Linked DNA regions of Homo sapiens. The protein of the gene in region 3 purifies or fractionates together with the protein of the main gene of each other region. This does not show direct contact. Each region holds a gene or a part of one and is shown on either strand. Other genes may lie near its edges.

The links.
Region 1: the proteins of ZDHHC7 (region 3) and NDFIP1 purify together in Homo sapiens (affinity purification with mass spectrometry; 2 studies listed by BioGRID and IntAct, with this or other methods). This does not show direct contact.
Region 2: the proteins of ZDHHC7 (region 3) and CKM purify together in Homo sapiens (affinity purification with mass spectrometry; 3 studies listed by BioGRID and IntAct, with this or other methods). This does not show direct contact.

The regions. Positions count from the first base shown.
Region 1 is NC_000005.10:142,125,566-142,129,386, forward strand, and holds part of NDFIP1 (NEDD4 family-interacting protein 1), read left to right. Parts: intron 1-3,821. UniProt on the Homo sapiens protein: Activates HECT domain-containing E3 ubiquitin-protein ligases, including NEDD4 and ITCH, and consequently modulates the stability of their targets. As a result, controls many cellular processes.
Region 2 is NC_000019.10:45,321,099-45,324,919, forward strand, and holds the start of CKM (creatine kinase M-type), read right to left. Parts: upstream 1,778-3,821; 5' UTR 1,723-1,777; intron 1-1,722. UniProt on the Homo sapiens protein: Reversibly catalyzes the transfer of phosphate between ATP and various phosphogens (e.g. creatine phosphate).
Region 3 is NC_000016.10:85,009,925-85,013,524, forward strand, and holds the start of ZDHHC7 (palmitoyltransferase ZDHHC7), read right to left. Parts: upstream 1,612-3,600; 5' UTR 1,362-1,611; exon of another isoform or gene 1,182-1,361; intron 1-1,181.

The DNA.
Region 1 (3,821 bases), on a different chromosome or scaffold from region 3:
CCCAGGCTGGTCTCAGACTCCTGGCCTCAAGTGATCCTCCTGCCTCAGCCTCCCAAAGTGCTGGGATTGCAGGCTGAGCCACTGTGTTTTCAGCCTATGTTTAACTTATTTTGAGGAACTGCCAAACTTTTCCACAGCAGCTGTACCATTTTACATTCCCACCAGCAGTGTATTAGAGTTCCCGTTTCTCCACATACTCAGCACTTGTTATTGTCTGTCTTTTTTATTATAGCCATCCTAGTAAGCATGAAGTGGTATTGAGTCTTGGTTTTGATTTGCGTTTTCCTGCTGACTTAATGATGTTGAGCATTTTGTGTCTACTGGCCTTTTGTATATCTTCTTTGGAGAAATGTCTGTTCAAATCATTTGCCCATTTTATAATTGGGTTGCCTTTTTATTGTTTAGTCTCTCTTATCTTGTCAGAATTATTTAAAATATCTTCCCCTAATTAATAACAATTAGATAGAGAATTTTTCTTGAATGTAAATAATTTGGTGATGTTAGAATAACAGAGTTTATATTTACAATATATAAAGTAAATGTACAGGCCACACAAACTTAATGATTATTTCTGAACAGCAGTAAAATAGCATACTCAGCTGTTTACCAAAAGAAATGTGCTTGTTTACTTTTTGTAATTATACTGCCTTGTTTTGGTAGGATTTAGGGACTATGCAGAAGTAGTGGGTTGGTAATGAGAGCTTTAAAAATTGCATTTTAAGGTAAAAGTTTTAGCAATTAACTCTAAGATAGAAGTAGTAAATAACATTCAAAACTAGAGTTCAAGCATTGACCCAGAATTTTCTGATATTTATTTTTAATAACTTAAAGAAGGGACTTGAAACTTACAAGAATTTTCTTGCTGTTTAAATATGACCAAACCAAGAAAAAATTAAGTAGTGAAAATACTTGCAACTTTATGGACTTACTGGATACTTCAGCATTATTTTTCACGTGCTTTGTTTGTTTGTTTGTATGAATTCTGAGGTGTATGTTGATACCTTTTCTCATATATAAGGATTTATGGGTTTTGTTTAGTGTAGGGTTTTTTGTTGTTCTCTCATTCTTAGTAAATATAGATAATCCAAGAATGACTTTTAAGTGCCTTTAGGTCCTGCCATTTGCTACAGTTATAAATGTTGCCCCTTGCTTAGCCCTAATCCTAGCCCCAGCTCTGCTATTGCTTAAAAACAACTCATTTTAGAACTGCTTAGTGAGGAGGGCGGTGGTGAAGCTTTCTTGCTGATTGGGAACTCAAATAATAGTTTAAATCTGTAGGGTATAATGTCTTAAACGTGTTAAATTCAAGTTTGTTTCTATTAGAATTAGAACTATATATGATTTCTGTGTTGGAGATTCATAAAAATGTCATATTTATTTTTAATAACAATAGGACCTAGATACAGAGGAAGGTGATAAGGAGGGAAAAAAAAACGCTCTATTTTATTTTATTTATTTATTTATTTTTGAGACAGAATCTCACTTTGTCGCCCAGGCTGAAGTGCAGTGGCTTGATCTCAGCTTACTGTAACCTCCACCTCCCCGGATCAAGTGATTCTCGTGCCTAAGCCTCCCGAGTAGTTGGGACTACAGGTGCATGCCACCACACCTGGTTGATTTTTGTATTTTTAGTAGAGACGAGATTTTACCATGTTGGCCAGGCTGGTCTCAAACTCCTGACCTCAAGTGATCCGCCCACCTCAGCCTCCCAAAGTGCTGGGATTACAGGTGTGACTTGAGAACAAAACCTTAGTAGCACCTATTTGTAAATAAATGTTTTCTTAAAATTGAAGGTCATCAAGGCCAAAGGCACCATGGCAGATTGTGACATATCTGAAGTAGGAAGAGTTTTAGGGTTCTTCTGGGGAGCCATTCTAGTCTGCTCAGCACATAGAAGGGAGCAAAGGTAATCAGGAAAAGAGTAATGGCACACTCTGGGTGTGAGAAAGTGAAAGGTCATCTGAATTCTCAGGTGATTGGATTATTTATTTCTTAGCGATGGAGGCATAGGTAGTTATAGGTAGTTCTGTATTAAACTCTACTTTGTATGGCCTGTGTAGGTAATTGTATAGCTGTATTTGGAAAAAATGCCATTTAAATCATATTTCAGCCGGGTATGGTGGCTCACGCCTATAATCCCAGCGCTTTGGGAGGCTGAGGCAGGCGGATCACTTGAGGTCAGGAGTTTGGTACCAACCTGGCCAACATGGCACAACCCCATCTCTACTAAAAATACAAAAATTAGCCAGGTATGGTGGTGCATGCCTGTAATCCCAACTACTTGGGAGGCTGAGGCGGAAGAATCACTTGAACCCAGGAGGCAGAGGTTGCAGTGAGCCAAGATGGTACCACTGCACTCCAGCCTGGGTGACAGAGTGAGATTCTGTCTCAAAAAAATAAATCATATTTGAAGTTTAGTAAAATTGGTCAGAAATTATATGACAGGAAAAAAAATCCAGTGTCCAACAGCTATTTATTATCTATCACAGTCACTCAAAGGATATCCCCCCTACCCTTGCCCAACATCTCTGTGCACTGAGAGCAGAAGTTCCCAGATCTGTCCCAGTTTTCAGATCTGTCTCTCTGAGTATCCCCTACAACCCAGATTCTGTGACAGTTAAATTGGACTCGGGCTTCCACTGACCCAGTTGATGGAAGAGACTGAGCATCTTTCCAACTCTAACCCAAACGTGACAATGCCGCGTATTCTTTCAGAAAGTGTCAGGAAAGAGCCCGAAGATCCCTGAGCTCCAGGGACATGGCAGGGAGGCTGCACAGAAGGGTTCCCAGGGGTGGAAAAGGGGAATCTTAAAAATAAATTTTGGAACCAAGTAATCAATTTTATAGCACACTCTAGTTCTAGCGCACATGGTTCCTCCACTTGTTAGTGAATGCCTGACTTGTTGCCCCTGAAGTGTAAAAAGATGTATATTTAAGGATTCCATTGTTCAGCAAGTTATTATGCATGCAGATGGCAGGCACTAAGTGCTTACTCTTTTTGAAGGTGATTGCCTCTCCCCGCGATCCCCCTACATTGCAGTGTTTTGTTTTAAACAGCTTTCTTGATGGAGCCTAATCTTATCACCAGCATTATAGAAATAAGCCAGAGTGAGAAGCCTGTACAGTGAGGTCTTGGGATTATACCATAGTCATAATGGTGTTTTAAATTGTTTTTATTTTTCAATTGAAAAAAGTACACTATTCTAAAGTAGTGAATTTTAGTGGAGCAAACTCTTCACCTGGAAGTGTTTTTTTCCTTACCAAAGTGAAAATTGGTGGTTCTAAGAAGGCTGGAATTTATTTGCACTGTCATCTTTTACTATGGTGGGGGATGATCAAATTTAACATTTCCAAGTTTCCAGGAGACAGGCAGCCTATCTTATAAATATTGTCATAGAAGACCTCTTAACCTCTTTGTTCTTTGGATTTCTGTATTTCTTAGAATTGTCATGCTTCCTTTCTGAGACCTAAATTATGCAGGGGTAACGTGATTACTTTGACACCAAGCTCAGGAAATATAAAACGGGTTAAGTATAAACCAAGCTAGGTTTAAATGAAGTTCATTACTGGCTACAGTATATTAAGGGAACATATTCGAAAAGTCTGTATTTGCCTTTGTTCTTGCTGCTGACTCTTCTGCTTCTTTTGGTGACCTTCCCACAGCACAAGAGTGGTTAGGTGTGAGGAGGCTAAGAATACCTTGCCAAGAGCTTCAAATAATGTTAAAACCAGTATTTTAGGTGAACCATGGTCCCAAGAACTCTATTTAAGTAATTCCTAGTTCGGTGTCCCAGGAGCATTTGGCTTTACTGCACCTATTT
Region 2 (3,821 bases), on a different chromosome or scaffold from region 3:
TCGCCATGTTGGCCAGGCTGGTCTTGAACTCCTGAACTCAAGTGATCCGCCCACCTCTGCCTCCCAAAGTGCTGAGATTACAGGCATGAGTCACGGCACCTGGCCTGTTGTTGTTATTTTAAAGGTTCGTGCGAGGAGCTGGTGAGAAGGTGGAGGTGAGGGTGCTGCTGGGAGTATGTGAGCAGGTTCTTGGATTATCAATCCAAAGACAAAGGGCTGGGTCGGGGGAGGGCTGGGTAGCTGCCCCCACCTCTGCCTGCTGACAGTTCTCCCACAGGGCTCAGAAGGGAAGAAAAGCTCAGCCTCTGGGTCGTCAGAGGCAGGTTCAAATCCCACCTATGCCATTTCCCTGCTGTGTGACCCCAGGCCAGTCACTAGGCCTCTCTGGACCTCTGTCTCCTGTGAACTGAGCCTGCCCCGTAGGATTGCCAGGATCCTCTGAGCTTGGCCATGAGGTTGGCTGAGCACAGGCCCTGGCATGGAGTTGGAGCCTGGAACCCTGGTGGCTGCTATTATTGTTATTTGTTATTACTACTTTTTTGCAGAGATGGGGTCTCACTATGTTGCCCAGGCTGGTCTGGGACTCCTGGCCTCAAGTGATCCTCCAGCATCGGCCTCCCAAGATGCTGGGATTATGCGTGTGAGCCACTGCGCCAGGTCCTACTGTTATTATTATTTTATTCACTGGACCCAGAAAGGAGAAGGGACCCAGAAAGGAGAAGGGGCCTCCAGCAGCGGTGGGAGACGGGGATGGGAAGCAGGTGGGATTGTGGGAGGGAGATTGGGACCACGGTGAGCTGAAGCCAGGGAAGAGGAACAGGGACCCGCCAAAGACCTTGGGTGCTGCTGTCCAGGGTGGTTATTTTTAGAATCTGGCAACTGCCTGCCATCCCACCCCCAGCTGCTGCCCCGCCCCACCCCCACATTCCGGGGCTCGGCTTGCACCAAGTCAGCAGGCCCAAGACAGGTGGGCCAGGGTGGCTGGGAGGACACGGGTCCAGGCCTCGGGGCTCAAGGACATCCTGGGATGGCAGCCCAGACCCCCTCCCTTCAGAGGATGCCCCCCTAATCCCTGCCAGGGACACCCCAGGAGAGGGCACTGAGGCAGGGTGGTGACCCCCCCCACAAGAGACATAAGCAGAAAGCCCCAGAGCCACACACCCCCACCACCGCAGACTCCCCAGATCACACTGTAAACTAAGTCACACAGTCACACTTCCAAACTCAAGGACATGCCCAGGACACTCATGTGTCCGCTACTAAGTCAGAAACAAGGTCACAGGGACCCACACAGTAGCAAACGCAAAGAAAGCCTGCGACACCTGCTCTTGCAGACTCTGCTAGGCGACAGACACACCTCCCACGGCTTGTGGCGCCAGTGTTGGCGACAAACTGTAATGAACACAGGCCTGGCTCAACAGCCCCTTGCAGGGGGTGACAGTTGGCAGCTGTCAGGACCCCTTTCATCTCGGATCCCTCCCCATAACCCAAGACTTGTGCCGCAGAAATCACAGGTCCCAGTGGGGGGTTCAGGCAGCCTCACAGATGGAGGGGCCTCCCAGACACACAAGGGTCAACCTTCCCACGCACCGACCTGCCTTTGTATAGGAGGATGTTGGTGGAGCAAGGGGTGACACACAGACCCTTTCCCAAGCCAAGCCTCTAGCACCCACAGAAATCCCCTACTCTGGCCCCCACCCAGATTCCCGCCCCGTGCAGTACCTGGCTGGGCTGGGCTGAAGGGGGGCTGTCTGTATCCTGGAGGTGACACTGACCCAAAGGAAGGGCCAGCAGCCGTGGCCTTATATAGGGGGACCTAGGCTGTGCTATTGGCTGGGAGGGGTTGTCCCCAGGGAGGAGTTCTGGAGGGCAGCTGAGCCTCTCACCTCCCTGCTCCCGCACCATACCCACCCTGAACCCAGGCATGCTTTGCGCCCAGCCCCATGGCCTTGTATGGGCTGAGCCGCCCCAGGGGCTGGGCTCACGCCCCCCCACCAAGCTGATACCCTGACCAAGTGCTGAGTTGGGCTGGCGGTGGGGACAGCTGGCCCCCCGCCGGGAACATGGGACGGTGGCTGGGAACGTCCCAAGCACGTAGAAGCCACCGTCCCCTGGCCCCTGAGTCTCCTTCAGCCACCAGCCCTTCCTGTGGCCCTCGGCTCCCCCTGTGCCCCCTGGGCCCTCACCCCTACCCGAGTCCCAGCGGCACCTCGGGGAACCAAGGTGTGGCTCCAGGAGGAGCAGATACCCTGTGAGCTGGAGGAAGCAGAGGCCGGGAGAAGGACCAATTGCAATGGAGGGCAGTCTAACCCCAGAAACCCGCGCTTGGGCGCCCCTTCCTCCTAGGGACTGAGTGGAGGGGAAACTGAGGCTGGCTGAGTTGGAGAGATTCAAACTCAGGGCAAGGGTGGGAGGCGGTGGTCACCCTCCCCCCCACTTAACCCTCGCCCCCTCGGTGCCACTGGGAGATTTCCGCTGTGCGGGGGACAGGGAGGGTCTCGGTCGCCGGGAAAGGAGTTATTTTTAGAGGGCGCTTTGCTGTCTCCTCTGCCGCAAAGGCCGAGACCCGAGGCGCTGGGTATGGGGGGGTTCGGGGGCAGGTGTTGGAGGGGGGTTCGCCACGTGTCCTGGTTAATTATAACCGGGCGTCTCGGGTGTCCTCGGGCCTCGCCTCCTTACAAGGGCAGCCACGGGGCCCTGGGTGGCCGCTCCCACCTCCCGGGGAAGGGGGCTGGGCAGCGACGCCGTTCAGAGCGCGGGCGCCAGACTCGCGCAGATCTGGGCAGAGCAAGCGCTCTCGGCGCCTCGGCTGTGAGCAAGGACTTCCAGGGCTGAGAGGGGGGTTCTGTGGAGGAGAGTACAGTATAGAGGAAGCCGCTTTCTCCTCCTGGGACGCGCCAGGATTGCAGGCTGATCGGGTCTCCTCCTCCAGGGAGCTCCCAGGATTGCGACGAAGAAAAGAATGTCCCTTCCCTCTGAGTTCCTCCCTATCCCAGGGTCTCCTGGGTCTCCTTCACATCTTCTTAGGCAGGTGAGGACTGGCTTAGAGAAAGGGAGCCTCTGTGCCTCTCCCTCAGACTCCTGATCTGAGGGGGGAGGGGAGAGGGGTGCTTTAGAAATATTTACATGGGGCCCAGCCCTTTCCCAGCAAGCTCAGATTGCCGAGGGTCTCCTTCACGGTTACGGAAACTGAGGCCCAGAAAACCAAATGGAACTGGTCTCGAAACAGGGATCTATCAGGCACTTCCTGAGGCTACAACAAAACACAAAACCCCCGCCGTCCTGGAGGTGATAGTGCAAGAGGGTCACAGATGAGGGGACGGCACAGCAGCAGGGGAGGTCGAGGCAGGCCTCTTTGGGAAGATGACATCTGAGCAGAGACCTGAAGGAGAACAGGGAGCCAGCCATGTGCGGCTCTGGGGGGAACAGCAGGTGCAAAGGCGCTGAGGTGAGAATGGCTGGGCACATCTGAGGACAGACAGGAAGGAGGCCAGGGGACTGGAGCAGATGGGGCCAAGGAGAGAGTGGGAGGAAGAAGATGAGGTTGGAGGGGAGACAGGAGCAGACCCATGGTGCCCTAGGGGCTGTGGGAGGAGTTTTAATCCCATTGTGATTGACAGTGAAAATGTTAGATGGGCCGGGCACAGTGGCTCAGGCCCGTAATCCCAGCACTTTGGGAGGCAGAGGCGGAGGCGGGTGGATCACTTGAGGCCAGGAGTTCAAGACCAGCCTGGCCAACATGGTGAAACCCCATCTCTACTAAAAGTACAAAAATTAGCCTGGCATGGTGACACACGCCTGTAATCCCAGCTAGCCAGGAG
Region 3 (3,600 bases):
GTCTCGATCTCCCGACTTCGTGATCCGCCCGCCTCGGCCTCCCAAAGTGCTGGGATCACAGGCATGAGCCACTGTGCCTGGCCAAGTTCTGACTTTTAACAAGCGAATTTAACAAAGTGACTTTTTTTTTTTTTTTGAGATGGGGATCTCACTCTGTTGCCCAGGCTGCAGTGCTGTGGCATGATCTCAAACTCAAGTGATCCCCCCACCTCAGCCTCCCAAGCAGCTGAGACCTCAGGCGTGTACCACCATATCCGGCTAATTTTTTAATTTTTTTGTAGAGAAGGGGATCTCACTATGTTGCCCAGGCTGCTCTCCAACTCCTGGGCTCAAGTGATCCTCCTGCCTCAGCCTCCCAAAGCGCTGGGATTACAGGCATGAGCCACGAGCCACCGCGTGCGTACCAGGCCACAAAGTGACTAAAAGGTGATTTCAGGTATGTAAACACTGTAAAACATAACAAAAAAGAGATTCTTCATCTGTGAGATGAAGAGTTCAGAAAGAAATATTAATACACATTGACCTAAATCTCTAAACCCCTTGGGATAGTAACAGTAAAATAGATAAATACGTGCGCTTAAGTGCATACACTAAGCAGACTGAAAATGCAACACTGTAGCAGCGATTTGCCCAGCACTGTATACAGCCCAGACAGTAAAAGAAGCTACAAGGCAGGTAGCCGCATCAACACTGTCTCTTACACTCCAATTTAACGGCCACAATAAACTGGTTCTTCATAAGCTAATAAAGTGTGTCTATCTAACTGAGTGTGACAAAGTTGTAGAAGGAACCACACCAGGAGAGGTGAGCCTTACTGCCCTGAAAGCTTTACTGTCCCAGATGCCCTTTCAGGCAACTAACACCCAAAGATGACTGACGTGGAGCAGGAGGGAAGATAACTAGGAAGATGGGCAGAGAATAAAAGAGAAAAGTTTACAGCTTAAGAGGAAGAGAAGCCACAACGCGAAGTGCGAGACTGCTCATTGTAATACCTGCCTATTAAAAAACTCTTTACAGCTTACACAGGGTTTATAGCTGCTCTGTAACCACCACCCCGTCATTAGCCACACAGAAAACCAGGGCTCGGAGAGCTGAGTGTCACGCCCAAGGTCAGGCAAAAAGCTGGGGCTGCAATCCGGGCCCTATCCCGAGAGAGCAACTAAGGAATGACAAGGGGGCACCTGGAAGGGAAGTCAGGTGCGGGCACGGAGGTGCCCCTAGGAACTCCAGAAGGTCGCAGGTGTGCGGCGGGGTGGAGACAGAGCGGCGGAACCGACGGAAGGACAGGGCACGCCGGGGGCCAGAAGTGGCCGGGAGACCCGGGAGTGAGCAGCCCGCCCGGCCCAGCCCGCCGCACTCACCCGAGGCCCGGGCGGGGTCGCCCGGCGCTGCGGCTCCTCCCGGCCTGCGGCGGCGGCGGCGGCGACTGCAGCGGCCGAGGCAGGGACGCATCATGCGGCCGCGCTCATGGCCGGGCTGGAGCGGGCCCCGCGGCTCGGCTCGGCTTGGTCCCCTGGGTCCCGCCGGGCAGGTCGGAAGGAGGCTGCAGCCAAGCAAATGCCTCAGCCCGGAGCCTTGGCTGGAGAGCGGGGCGGTGCGAGCGCCGGAAGTGAACCCGACGAGGTCAGTGACGTCACGCCGGCGCAGTTCCGGCCGCGCAGCTCTCGCGGAGAGGGGCGCTCGAGGCGGTTTGAGGGGACCCGGAGGCTCTTACAAACTGGCAGTTCATTGAGAAAAGGCAGCTTTTAGTCACAGCCCCTCTCGCTAAGACAGAGATGCCGCCAAACTGAAGTCCGGAGGAGAAAGGATAGGGGCTACGGGCTGCAGCAGGGTCCAAGCCACGCCGTTAGGCTGCGGAACCGGGTTGGGAATGCCCTTAGCGGAGTGTGTACCCGCGCCCGCGGCGGTGTCTCAGAGGCAGCTCCAGTGGCCTGTACTATATGCGGGGATGTGACCGAAGGAAATGGGAAAGTAAGGGAGCGGGAGTGGAAATGGCTGAGCCAGAAAGCACTTGGGAAAAGAGGAAAGCGCCCTGAACTGGGGATTGGAGGCCTGACTCCTGAGGTCCGCGGAGCCCCCGGCCTCCTCCTTGAGGGACTTGGACACTAGAGCACCGCCACTGTCCCTTCCATATAGGAAGCCCTAAGTGTTTGAAAGTAGGAACATGTATTTTAAGGCCGGGCGCGGTGGCTCACGCCTGTAACTCCAGCACTTTGGGAAGCCAAGGCAGGCTGATCACTTGAGGTCAGGAGTTCGAGACCAGCCTGAACAACAATGGTGAAATTCCGTTTCTATTAAAAACACATAAATTAGCCGGATGTAGTGGTGCACGCCTGTAATCCCAGCAGCTACTCGAGAGGCTGAGGCAGGAGAATCATGAACCCAGGAGGCGAAGGTTGCAGTGAGCTGAGATCAAGCCACTGCACTCCAGCCTGGGCGACAGAGTGAACAGTCTCAAAAAAAAAAAAAAAGCATATCTTTTTTTTAAAATAAAATTATGACTCTCACACAAATATAAAATGAACATATGTCAAAGATACCATTTAACTCATTAATGATGGTATATATACAATGCTCCACTAGAGCTCTAGATAGCTTAAAGACAAAAGTAAGACCCCATAAGACGAGATAACCCAGAAGGGTATGCCAGACAATACCTACTTGTTCAATGAAGACACCTAAAGAAAACCAGAATAAGGCCAGGTGTGGTGGCTCACATCTGTAATCCCAGCACTTGTAGGAGGCCGAGGCAGGCAGATCACCTGAGGTCAGGAGTTCGAAACTATCCTGGTCAACGTGGCGAAACCCCATCTCTACTAAAAATACAAAAATTAGCCGGGTGCAGTTTTGGGCGCCTGTAATCTCAGCTACTCGGGAGGCTGAGGCAGGAGAAACCGCTTGAGAACCGGGAGGCAGAGGTTGCAGTGGGCCGAGATCGCGCCATTGCACTCCAACCTGGGTGACAGCGAGACTCCATCTCAATGAAAAAAGAAAAAGAAAAAACCAGAATATATCACCGCAAAATATGCCTCTTCGACAGAAAAATTATTTTCAGCTGAAGGCAATTAAGAAGCGACAAATGCAGGAAAAGTTCTCTTTATCCTCCCTTTTCTGCCTAAAGGGCAGGTGTAAATTCACCTTTACTGGACATTCTAGACTCTTCTTAGCCCAGAGAGGGCACCAAAGGAATCTGCAAACAAACCTTACTCTATTAAGTTTCTTCCCATATATAAACCTTTCCATAGTTTGCCACTTTTGGAAGCTCAAAACTCCTTTGTCCTGTCATTTCTCTACAAAAGTATTGTTCTTTTATTATTATTATTATTATTTTACTTTGAGATGGAGTCTCGCTCTGTCTCCCAGGCTGGAGTGCAGTGGTGCAATCTCAGCTCACTGTAACCTCCACTTCCGGGGTTTAAGCAATTCTCCTGCCTCAACCTCCTGAGTAGCTGGAATTACAGGGGCCCGCCACCACGTCCGGCTAATTTTTGTATTTTTAGTAAAGATAGGGTTTTGCCATGTTGGCCAGGCTGGTCTTGAACTCCTGACTGCAAGTGATCCACCCACCTTGGCCTCCCAAAGTGCTGGGATTGTAGGCAT